2 separate regions of the Homo sapiens genome follow, and region 2 is reported to be linked to region 1. Evidence: microRNA targets listed by miRTarBase, many of them from high-throughput screens and not tested one by one. Region 1 holds a microRNA gene; the other region holds the end of a gene's coding sequence.
Evidence for each region. The annotated mature microRNA hsa-miR-330-3p reads GCAAAGCACACGGCCUGCAGAGA and lies in region 1 at 4,829-4,851, opposite strand. An mRNA with a match to its seed (bases 2 to 7 or 8) in the 3' UTR can be bound and repressed. Matches are read on the target gene's strand: a 7mer-m8 pairs with bases 2 to 8, a 7mer-A1 pairs with bases 2 to 7 and ends in A, and an 8mer does both.

Region 1 (5,775 bases):
GTGGCTTTGGAGAGGGAGCAAAGGCTTAGCCTTGCCCCAAACCCCACAGGGTAGCAATGTGAAAAGAGGCATAGAGGGGCAGGGGCTGGAGCTCCATCTCCAGCCACAGCTCCCTCCCGTCCCCTCTGTCCCACATCTCACCATTTGATGTCATCGTTGTGTCCCAGGTAGTGTCGCTGCCTCTGCTCCTCCACGCTGTATAGCACGGCTACGGAGGCCACAAAGTACACTATCTCCCCGGTGGGCAGCAAATAAAGGTTGGCCCGGCAGTCTCGGCCACGGTAGCCATAGCTGGAGCCACCCAGGGGCTGGTTAAGGAATGTGTTTTGTTGTTGTTGTTTGTTTGTTTTGTTTTTATTTATTTATTTATTTTTAATTTTTTTATTTATTTATTTTTTTGAGATGGAGTCTCACTCTGTCGCCCAGGCTGGAGTGCAGTGGCGTGATCTCAGCTCACTGCAAGCTCCGCCTCCTGGGTTCATGCCATTCTCCTGCCTCAGCCTCCTGAGTAGCTGGGACTACAGGCGCCCGCCACCATGCCCGGCTTATTTTTTGTATTTTTAGTAGAGACGGGGTATCACCATGTTAGCCAGGATGGTCTCGATCTCCTGACCTTGTGATCCACCCGCCTCGCCCTCCCAAAGTGCTGGGAGCCACGGCACCCAGCCTATTTATTTTTTCTTTTTTTTGAGACGCAGTCTCGCTCTGTCTCCAGGCAGCAGTGCAGTGGTGCAATCTCAGCTCACTGCAACCTCCGACTCCCTGGTTCAAACGATTCCCCTGCCTCAGCCTCCTGAGTATCTGGGATTACAGACACACGCCACCACACCCAGCTAATTTTTGTATTTTTAATAGAGATGGGATTTCACCATGTTGGCCAGGATGGTCTCAATCTCCTGACCTCATGATCCGCCCGCCTCAGCCTCCCAAAGTGCTGGGATTACAGGCGTGAGCCACCACGCGCGGCCTGTTTTGTTTTTTTAAGACAGAGTCTGTCACCCAGGCTGGAGTGCAGTGGCATGATCCCAGCTCACTGCAACCTCCGCCTCCTGGGTTCAAGCCATTTTCCTGTCTCAGCCTCCCAAGTAGCTGGGACTACAGGCAGATGCCATCATGCCAGGCTAATTTTTGTATTTTTAGTAGAGATGGGGTTTCACCATATTGGTCAGGGTGGTCTCCAACTCCTGACCTCAGGTGATCCACCCACCTTGGTCTCCCAAAGTGCTGGGATTAGAGGTTTGAGCCGCTGGCGCCCAGCCGAGGAATGTATTTTGCATCACACACACTGGCTGAGGACCAGACTCAACAAGGTCATTGGAATGAGGTTTTTCTGTTTCCACTCTCACCCCTGTAGTGGGCTGATGGTCCCCTCCCACTCCAAAAAAAAATGAATGTCTGTTTCCTTTTTTTTTTTTTTTTTTTTTTTTTTGAGATGGAGTTTCGCTCTTGTTGCCCAGGCTGGAGTGCAATGGTGTGATCTCAGCTCACGGCAACCTCCACCTCCCGGGTTCAAGGGATTCTTCTGCCTCAGCCTCCTGAGTAGCTGGGATTATAGGCATGCGCCACCATGCCTGGCTAATTTTGTATTTTTAGTAGAGAAAGGGTTTCTCCATGTTGGTCACGCTGGTCTTGAACTCCCAACCTCAGGTGATCTGCCCACCTCGGCCTCCCAAAGTGCTGGGATTATAGGCATGAGCCACCGCGCCCGGGCTATGTCTGTTTCTTAATCCCCACAACTTGCAAATGTGACCTTACAAGGAAAATGGGTCTTTGCAGATATAATTATAGATCTCAAGATGAGATCATCCTGGATTATCAGAGTAGCCCCTAAATCCGATCACAAGTGTCCTTATAAATGACAGAAGAGGCAGCCTCAATCTCCTGGGCTTAAGTGATCCTCCTGCCTCCGCTTCCCAAATAGCTGAGACTACAGGCATGCACCACCATGCCCAGCAAATTTTTTGTATATTTTTGGTAAAGATGCAGTCTCGCCATGCTGCCCAGGCTGGTCTCAAATTCCTGGGCTAAAGCAGTCCACTTGTCTTGGCCTCCTAAAGTGCTGGGATTACAGGCATGAGCCAATGCACCCAGCCTGCCTGGCTAATTAAAAAGAAATTTTCTGTAGAGATGGGATCTCGCTTTGTTGCCCAAGCTGATAGTTATCTGGTTTATTTGTTAACTGCTCATATTCCCCAATAAGACTGTGAGTTCCATGGTGGCTGAGATTGGGCTGTTTTTTTTGTTTGTTTGTTTTGTTTTTTTCATTTCTGTATCTCCTCCTCCAGGAAGCCCTCCATGACTCCAGGCTGGGTCAGCCCTGTCCCTGTGGATTCCCCATCCCAGTCTTGCACACTCTGGGTTGTCACTCTCAATGAGTCTGTTCCCATGCTAGACTGTATGCCCCAGGAGGGCAGGCAGATGCTGTCATGGTCAGCACTGGGTCCCCAGCCCTATGTCTCAGATGTTCAGAAAATATCTTGAATGGGCCAAGCACGGTGGCTCACGCCTGTAATCTCAGCACTTTGGGAGGCCGAGGCAGGTGGATCACTTGAGGTCAGGAGTCCAAGACCAGCCTGGCCAACATGGCGAAACCCTGTCTCTACTAAAAAACACACAAAAAAATTAGCCAGGCATGGTGGCCCATGCCACCCAGCTACTGTAGTGGCCGAGGCAGAAGAATGGCTTGAACCCAGGAGGTGGAGGTTGCAGTGAGCCAAGATCGTGCCACTGCACTCTAGCCTGGGTGTCTCAAAAACAAGAAAATATCTGAATGATTGTCAATATACATATATCCTGACCCCATGAAACTGCTCTGACCTGCAGTCACTGCAAAGGGGAGCAATCTGAGGTCCTCACTTTTGCAGTCTCAGCCACCTCTCATCAGATGCTTATCAAGCCCTACTGGCAGGACATTTGGGACAGATTCCAGGGGATATTTCCAGCTGCCTCGAGAAGGCTCTGGGCACCCAGAAGGCCAGGCCATTTCACCAACCACCCTGGCTCCTCCAAAGAGGAAACCAAGGCCCAGAGAGAAGCAGACAAGGACCGGGTTCCTGGGGTGTGGACTCCAAGCTCAATAGGATTTTAGGAAAAAGTTTGGGTCCCAGAATCAGGATTGTTGTCTCCTACCTATAACCTCAGTTTCCTTATCTGGAAAGGAGGTATAATAATTTCCAAACTGTAGGCCTCAGAGCTCTTGGAGGCCACTAGTTGTAAAAAAATAAATTCATACCTGGAATAACTTACAACAGTGTCTGTCAGATAGTAAGTGCTTGAGTTATTATTTTGGATTTTTTTTTTTTTTTTTTTTTTTTTGAGAAAGGAGTCTCGCTCTGTCGCCCAGGCTGGAGTGCAATAGCACAATCATGGCTCACTGCAACCTCGACCTCCCAGGCTCAAGTGATGCTCCCACCTCAGCCTCCAGAGTAGCTGGGAACCACAGGAGCATGCCACCATGGCTGGCTATTTTTTTTTTCTTTTTCTTTTCTTTTTTTTTTTTTTTTTTTTTTTTTTGAGACGGAGTTTCACTCTTGTGGCCCAGGCCGGAAAGCAGTGGGGCAATCTCGGCTCACTGCAGCCTCTGCCTCCTGGGTTCAAGCGATTCTCCTGTCTCAGTCTCCCGAGTAGCTAGGTTTACAGGCACATGCCACCACACTCGGCTAATTTTTGTATTTTTAGTAGAGACAGGATTTCATCATATTGGTCAGGCTGGTCTCAAACTCCTGACCTCAGGTGATCTGCCCACCTCGGCCTCCCAAAGTGCTCAGATTACAGGCATGAGCCACCGCGCCCGGCCTGCTATTTTATTTCCTGTAAAGACGAGGTCTTGCTATGTTGCTCAGGCTGGTTTCAAACTCCTGGGTTCAAGTGATCCACCCACCTCGGCCTCCCAATGTGCTGAGTTAGTGTTTTATCAGTCCCTGTGCATGGGGCACATACTATGAGCTCAGTACCTTTACACATTATTTCACAGGTCTATGGACCTGAGATCATAAAATTCATTTTTCAGAGTCAAGACGACTTTTCCAGGGTCACACGGCCAGGTACGGGCTGGACTGGGGTTTGAACCCATCTCTGTCAGACTCCAGAGCCCGGGCTTCCAGCCATTCCCAACTCTTTTTGCTCAAATGCACCAATCCCACTCTGGCCACATAGCCCTTGAACGTGCTGTGCTTGTTTTGTGTGTTGCCCAGGCAGGTCTCAAACTCTTGGCCTCAAACGATCCTCCCAAAGTGCTGAGATTACAGGCCTGAGCTGCCTTGACCGCCTTTCTATTTCCTCCTGGGGGGATGGGAGCACCAAGGAGATTCCAGCAAAAGGATACACCCACTCCAGCTTGAGCCGGCAAGAAGGCAGCTCCGAGCGTGTGTCCAGGCTGTAGGTGGGTGCCAGCTCGTCTGGGATCATCATGGGCACAGGGCGGCCCCTCAGGAACATTTTCACGGAGCCATCCTCTGCCAGGACACCCCCAGAGGTCAGGCACTGACACCAGCCCCATCCCTATTCCCTCTCCTCTTCCAGCTTTATTTATTTATTTTTTTAAAGGCAGGGAAACTGAGGCCAGAGAGGCAAAGACCCAGTAGCCAAGACTCCTGACCTCTGGCTCCAGCCTGTCACCCCAACAAGCAAGCTTCCACCGAGCCCTTCCCCATCTCCCCACTCACCCACACTGAAGATAACTTCTTTGGTTTTGCTGTCAGGAAAGGACAAAGAAAAAAAAAGGGTCTTAGTATTCAGTTCAGAAAAGGGGAGAAACCATTCCTCCACCCCCACCGCTCCCCGGAGGTCTCCGATGAAAACGGGGCCGAGTAAGGGGCAGAGCGCTGCCTCTCTGCAGGCCGTGTGCTTTGCTCGGTTGATCTTGCAGAGCCTAAGACACAGGCCCAGAGAGGCAGTGATCGCCAAAGATCACACAGCACGAAGTGGCAGGGACGCGATCCTGGAAGAAGGGAGTCACCAAGGACCCTTCCCTCCTAATCAGCAAGGTGCTCCCCAGCGCCCCCCACCCGCAGTTCCCCCAGCACACCAAACGTCAAGCAGAGGGAGAAACGGGGAGAGTTTAAGGGAAGGGGCGTGTCCCCACGCCGGTCTGGGTCCCAGGGGTTGGGTGAAACCTGAGATCTAAGCCCCGGGAGCGCGGAGAGGAGATGGGGGGTGGTCTGCGAAAGGGTCTCACCCAGCTCCAAAGCTACTCATGGCGGCGGGTGGCGGAGCTTCGGGGCCGGGGGTGGAGCCGGGACCGGCTCTGCCGCTTCCGGCCCTGGGAGGCGCCCGGGCCGCCGCGCCCCTGCCCCGCCCTCCACAGCCACCCCTGGAGCCGGAGGGTCCCACCGGGTCACACATCCCGGGCTGTGGACTCCCGATCCCAGGTTCTTTCGGGGTGGGTGGGGGAGAGTGGTTGAGAACATGGACTCGGGAGCGCGCCTGCTTGAGTTAAAACCCCAGTTCTGCTAATTCCTAGCAGTGTACACAGGTCGTCCAACCTCTGCCTCGGTTTCCTCATTTAAAAAATGGGGATAATAAGAGTACCCGGCCGGGCGCGGTGGCTCATGCCTGTAATCCCAGCACTTTGGGAGGCCGAGGCGGGCAGATCACCTGAGGTCAGGAGTTCAAGACCAGCCTGGCCAACGTGGTGAAACCCCGTCTCTACTAAAAATACAAAACTTAGCCTGGCGTGGTGGCTGGCGCCTGTAATCCCAGCTACTTGGGAGGCTGAGGCAGGAAAATCATTCGAACTCGGGAGGCAGAGGTTACAGTGAGCTGAGATTGTGTCAT
Region 2 (4,764 bases), not on the chromosome of region 1:
TGCTTTACTGTTCACCTAGTGATAACAGGAGTAGTCACTTCATTTTATTGATGATAAATTGAGGTTTAGCCAAGTCACACAGTGAAGTGCAAGAGCTAGGATTACAACTGAGTTCTGTCTGGCCCAGAACCAGCTCTGCAGTGTCCCATCCACCCTCACACCGCTGCTCCTCTGGACCTCTGTCACACAGGAGCAGACAAGGATCATTCTGGGATGCAGCAGCTACTGCCCACAGAAAAGCCATCTCCCCGTGGCCTTGATACTCCCTTTTAAGAAGTGGTAAACTGGCCGGGTGCAATGGCTCATGCCTGTAATCCCAAAACTTTGGGAGTCCCAGGCGGGCGGATCACCTGAGGTCGGGAGTTCAAGACCAGCCTGACCAACATGGAGAAACCCCATCTCTACTAAAAATACAAAACTAGCCAGGCGCGGTGGTGCATGCCTGTAATCCCAGCTACTCGGGAGGTTGAGGCAGGAGAATCACTTGAACCTGGGAGGCAGATGTTGTGGTGAGCCGAGATCAAGCCATTGCACTCCAGCCTGGGCAACAAGAGCAAAACTCCGTCTCAAAAAAAAAAAAAAGATAAAACTACAAGATACCATGATGATGAATGTCAGGTTTTGTGGTTGGGACCAACCATGAGACAAAGCTTACGAAAAGGTTTACCCTGGCTTAGTCCGCATTAACAGAAATATGGTATCTGGAGCATCCAGATCCAAACCTGCTCTAATCTACGTGTCTAAAGGATAAGTTGGTTCCTAGATGCCTTGCCTTAAAGAGTGGGGTGCTTCCCCTTGAGCAAAAAAGACTATGGAGTGGGCCAGGTGCGGTGGCTCACGCCTGTAATCCCAACACTTTGGGATGCCAAGGTGGGTGGATTGCTTGAGGTCAGGAGTTCAAGACCAGCCTGGCCAACATGGTGAAACCCCATCTCTACTAAAAATACAAAAATTAGCCGGGCATAGTGGTGTGTGCCTGTAATCCCAGCTACTTGGGAGGCTGAGGCAGGAGAATCGCCTGAACCCGGGAGGCAGAGGGGTTGCGGTGAGCCGAGATCGCACCACTGCACTCCAGCCTGGGTGACAGAGCCAGACTCCATCGTAAAAAAAAAAAAAAAAAAGCTGGAGTGTAAGAATGAACTCTCTCTTCAAAAATATGAAGAGCTTTTACACATGAAAGAGATGAGATGTTCTGTTGAGACTTAATGGAGCAAACTAAGACCCCGAGTAGAAGTCACAGGAAGCCCAAAGCCCCCTCGGCACAAGGATAAATATGTCCGAAGACTGTCTGAGGAGATGGTAAGTTCCCCGACTGGGGCACATGAGGCAATCACAGCTAACGTTTTGAGGATACCTGTTCTATGCAAGCTGTTTTATTGAATGGATTACAAAAAGTATGTTAAGTAATGCACACCCTAGGAAGGCGTTCCTTGTAAAATGGGCCCATGTTTCAGGTGAGGAAACTGAAGCTCAGAGCGGGAGACAGCTTGCTCAAGCAGAGGCCAAGGCCTTTACGTCATGGCTCTTCCTCAGCACAAGCTAGAGACCCACACTGGTGGGGATGCTCCAAAAGGGACTCGAGGATTAGAAGGAACCTGCACCATATGGCTTTGAAGGCCTCTCCCTGAGGATTAGTGATTCTGATTTTTCTTAAGACAGGATTCTAGGCTACTCTATATGAGAGCCAGGGCCAGGCAGAGGCTGTGGAGACCAGAGTCGGGGTCAGAATGATAGTCCAGCCCCACAGTAGCCTGCTCCTGTCCTTCTGGGACTCCCTGGAGACTGGACCCTAGCACCTCCACTCAGCCTCACCCTCCTCACTTCCTCTGCAGAGGTCTATTCTAGGAAAAGGAAATGGCCGGAGCTGGCAATGAGGAGCTGTGACCACAGGGTGGCAGCAGTGCTTCAGCTGTGGAGAGTGACTATAGGAAGGGCGATGAGGCAGGTCGGAAGCAGTGCTCTCTAGTGAGGATGGGGGTCTGTCTGCAAAGATTGGAAGCCACACTCATTCAGTGGGCTCCAAAATCCTGTAGCCTCCCTCTATATCTTAATAATTTTTTTTTTTTGAGACAGAGTTTCTCTTTTTGCCAAGGCTGGAGTGTAGTGGTGCCATCTCAGCTCACTGCAACCTCTGCCTCCCCGATTCAAGCGATTCTCCTGCCTCAGCCTCCTGAGTAGCTGGGATTACAGGTGCCTACCACCACGCCCAGCTAATTTTCGTATTTTTAGTAGACAGGGTTTCACCATGTTGGCCAGGCTGGTCTCGAACTCCTGCCCTCAGGTGATCCACCCGCCTTGGTCTCCCAAAGTGCTGGGGTTACAGGTGTGAGGCACTGCACCCGGCCAAAAAAAAAATGGTTTTTAATTAAAAAAAAAAAAGATACAGGCTGGGCATGGTGGTTGACGCCTGTAGTCCCAGCTACTTGGGAGGCTGAGGCAGGAGAATCACTTGAACCCAGGAGCCAGAGGTTGCAGTGAGCCGAGATCGCGCCACTGCACTCCAGCCTGGGCAAAAAGAGCGAAACTCCATCTCAAAAAGAAAAAAAGTTAAATTCTCTCCATCATCATGAAGTTGAATATATTTTTTCTATCCACAGGCAAATCTGAGTAGCCTCCAAGAGGCACACAAGCAGAGGATGGGCTGTGTTGCCCTGACTGCCAGCCCCAGGCACAGAGGACCAGGCCTGGTCATCCTCACAGACTCTGACCCTGGCTCTTCCCACTCCTCTTCCACTCCAGGACATCCTACTTAACCCCTCCTGACATGAGTTTCTTGTGCTTTAGTCTACAGGTTAGGAAAGAGGGGAAGTGATAAACAAGCTCTCCAACCTGTTGAGGGATTAGGGGTTCGTCTAAGGCTCCCCAGGGCCTGGCTCTGACAAAGCGTCTGCAACTAATGATGCTTCTTGAGCTCTGGAGACAGGATTTATGCATCTAATAAAGTCTGTAACTCCAGGCTTAGGGGCCGGGGGCAGGAGGCTGAGAGCATGAAGTCCTGGGGGCGCCATGGGAGGAGATCCCAGGTGGCTCCTAATGAGCCCTGCATTTCCATTTGCCTGCTCTAGATTCCCCTAAGGCTACTGTGAGGCTGGGGGTGGGGGAACAGCAGGTATAAGAGGTTGGGGTGGCTGTAGGAGGGTAGGTGGCAGCATGGATTCTAGGCAGGCTGCTGCACTGCTGGTGCTGCTGCTGTTAATAGACGGGGGCTGTGCTGAAGGGCCAGGAGGCCAGCAGGAAGACCAGCTCTCCGCGGTGAGTGTGTGTCCCATCCCCATATCACCATTGCCTCTACTTCGGTTGAGACTTGTGCTCTAGGTTCTGATACTTTCTCTGGCTGCCAAGGTTGTCATTAGGTCCTCACATCTGAGGAAATGGTTCCGCAGCCTCCTACCACTTGCCCCTGGAAGCCAGTCCCTTCCCCTTGTGACTTACGTGTCCAGGGTATTTGCCCATCTTCCTTCCCTGATACCCCCTTGGCACAGGAGGAAGACAGCGAACCCCTCCCACCACAGGATGCCCAGACCTCTGGGTCACTGTTGCACTACCTGCTCCAGGCAATGGAGAGACCTGGCCGGAGCCAAGCCTTCCTGTTTCAGCCCCAGAGGTGAGTCTGAAAGGGACACAAGCATGGCAGGGGCTGGGGGTGGAAAGGGCAGGAGGCAGAGGAAGAGGAGAAGGAAGGGGGCTAGAGAAGGGAGACTGCGGGGACCTGAGGACAAATCTTTCCTAAGGTTTGGCAGAAATACCCAGGGATCCTGGAGGAATGAATGGCTGAGTCCCCGGGCTGGAGAGGGGCTGAATTCCCAGTTCTGGAGCCTGGCTGCCCCTCAACGCTTTGGGAAGAAGTGACATGTCATCCCTTGATATGTCTGCATGCAAGGTCCACACCCAAAAGTGTCAATGTTTGCCCCCCAAATAAAATTGTCTGGCTTCTGAATCCATGTGTGTCTGTGTGAGACTTTACAGGGCTGGGTGGAAGCCCAAGGGCAAGAACCACTGCCCTTCCCCTCCACCAAACCCAGCCCTCCAGCAAGGCAGCCGACAACATTCCACGAGGCCACTGTGCCCAGCCTCCTCCCACCAGAAAGGAAAACAGGAGAATGGCTGGAACAGGAGCTCAGGGAAGGCACACAAAAGTAATGTGGTGACCTCCTCTGCTATCCACACTGCTCAAGGAAACAGAAGAGAAGGGCTTAAAAATCCACAAAGCAGCATATTTATTCCAGGCTCTAGTAGACAGCCCCCTGATTTCATTCCCATTCATCATCACCAATAAAATGAGGACGGATCCTGGGCTGGCTGAGGCTCTGTGGTCCTTGGCTCCTTGCCCTGTGCCTTCTCAGCTTCAAGGCAGGCAGTCTGTGTCAGAGGTAGAGATGGCACCCACAGAGGGTACCAGAGCTGCGCAGATACATGAGCCCAGAGGCAGAAAGAGCAGGGAGCAAAGGGTGCACATCCATGAGTCCAGCTGGGGCTTCACTTGCTGCCTGCCATGATCTTGAGGTACTGCAGGGCACGGCGGGCAGCCTCACCACGGGCTGCCTCCCTGGTGGTTGCAGAGCCATGACACACAGTGGCCGGCTGGGTGGACAGTTCCACCAGGCACTGGCAGAGTCCACTCAGGCTCAGCTCCTCTGGAGAGCAAGAGAGAGGAGGGAGGCAATGTTGGGGGAGGTAGCCCTGGGGAGGGGTGCGTTCACGTTATCATCACCCCCTTCTACTTGCTCCGGTCCAGCCCCCACCATCCCCTGGCTCGCTCCCCAG

Region 2: miRTarBase lists TARBP2 as a target of hsa-miR-330-3p. Seed matches in the 3' UTR shown: 7mer-m8 at 4,205-4,211.

The regions. Positions count from the first base shown.
Region 1 is chr19:45,634,181-45,639,955 of GRCh38, forward strand. It overlaps MIR330 (microRNA 330), which reads right to left and starts at 4,907; the gene lies at 4,814-4,907. It overlaps EML2 (EMAP like 2), which reads right to left and starts at 5,217. Exons shown (of 19, transcript NM_012155.4): 1 at 5,177-5,217; 2 at 4,665-4,693; 3 at 4,325-4,454; 4 at 142-291. The coding sequence starts at 5,196. RefSeq lists enhancers at 4,043-4,894, 4,131-4,425, 4,895-5,746 and silencers at 4,131-4,425, 5,122-5,401, 5,422-5,511.
Region 2 is chr12:53,505,861-53,510,624 of GRCh38, reverse strand. TARBP2 (TARBP2 subunit of RISC loading complex) reads right to left here. Exons shown (of 9, transcript NM_134323.2): 9 at 4,194-4,634. The coding sequence ends at 4,477. ATF7-NPFF (ATF7-NPFF readthrough) reads left to right here. Exons shown (of 15, transcript NR_159377.1): 13 at 2,598-2,791; 14 at 3,483-3,604; 15 at 3,732-3,937. It overlaps NPFF (neuropeptide FF-amide peptide precursor), which reads left to right and starts at 3,141. Exons shown (of 3, transcript NM_003717.4): 1 at 3,141-3,252; 2 at 3,483-3,604; 3 at 3,732-3,937. The coding sequence starts at 3,151. The coding sequence ends at 3,849. It also overlaps a transcript of ATF7 not described here. RefSeq lists a silencer at 1,356-1,588 and an enhancer at 1,726-2,020.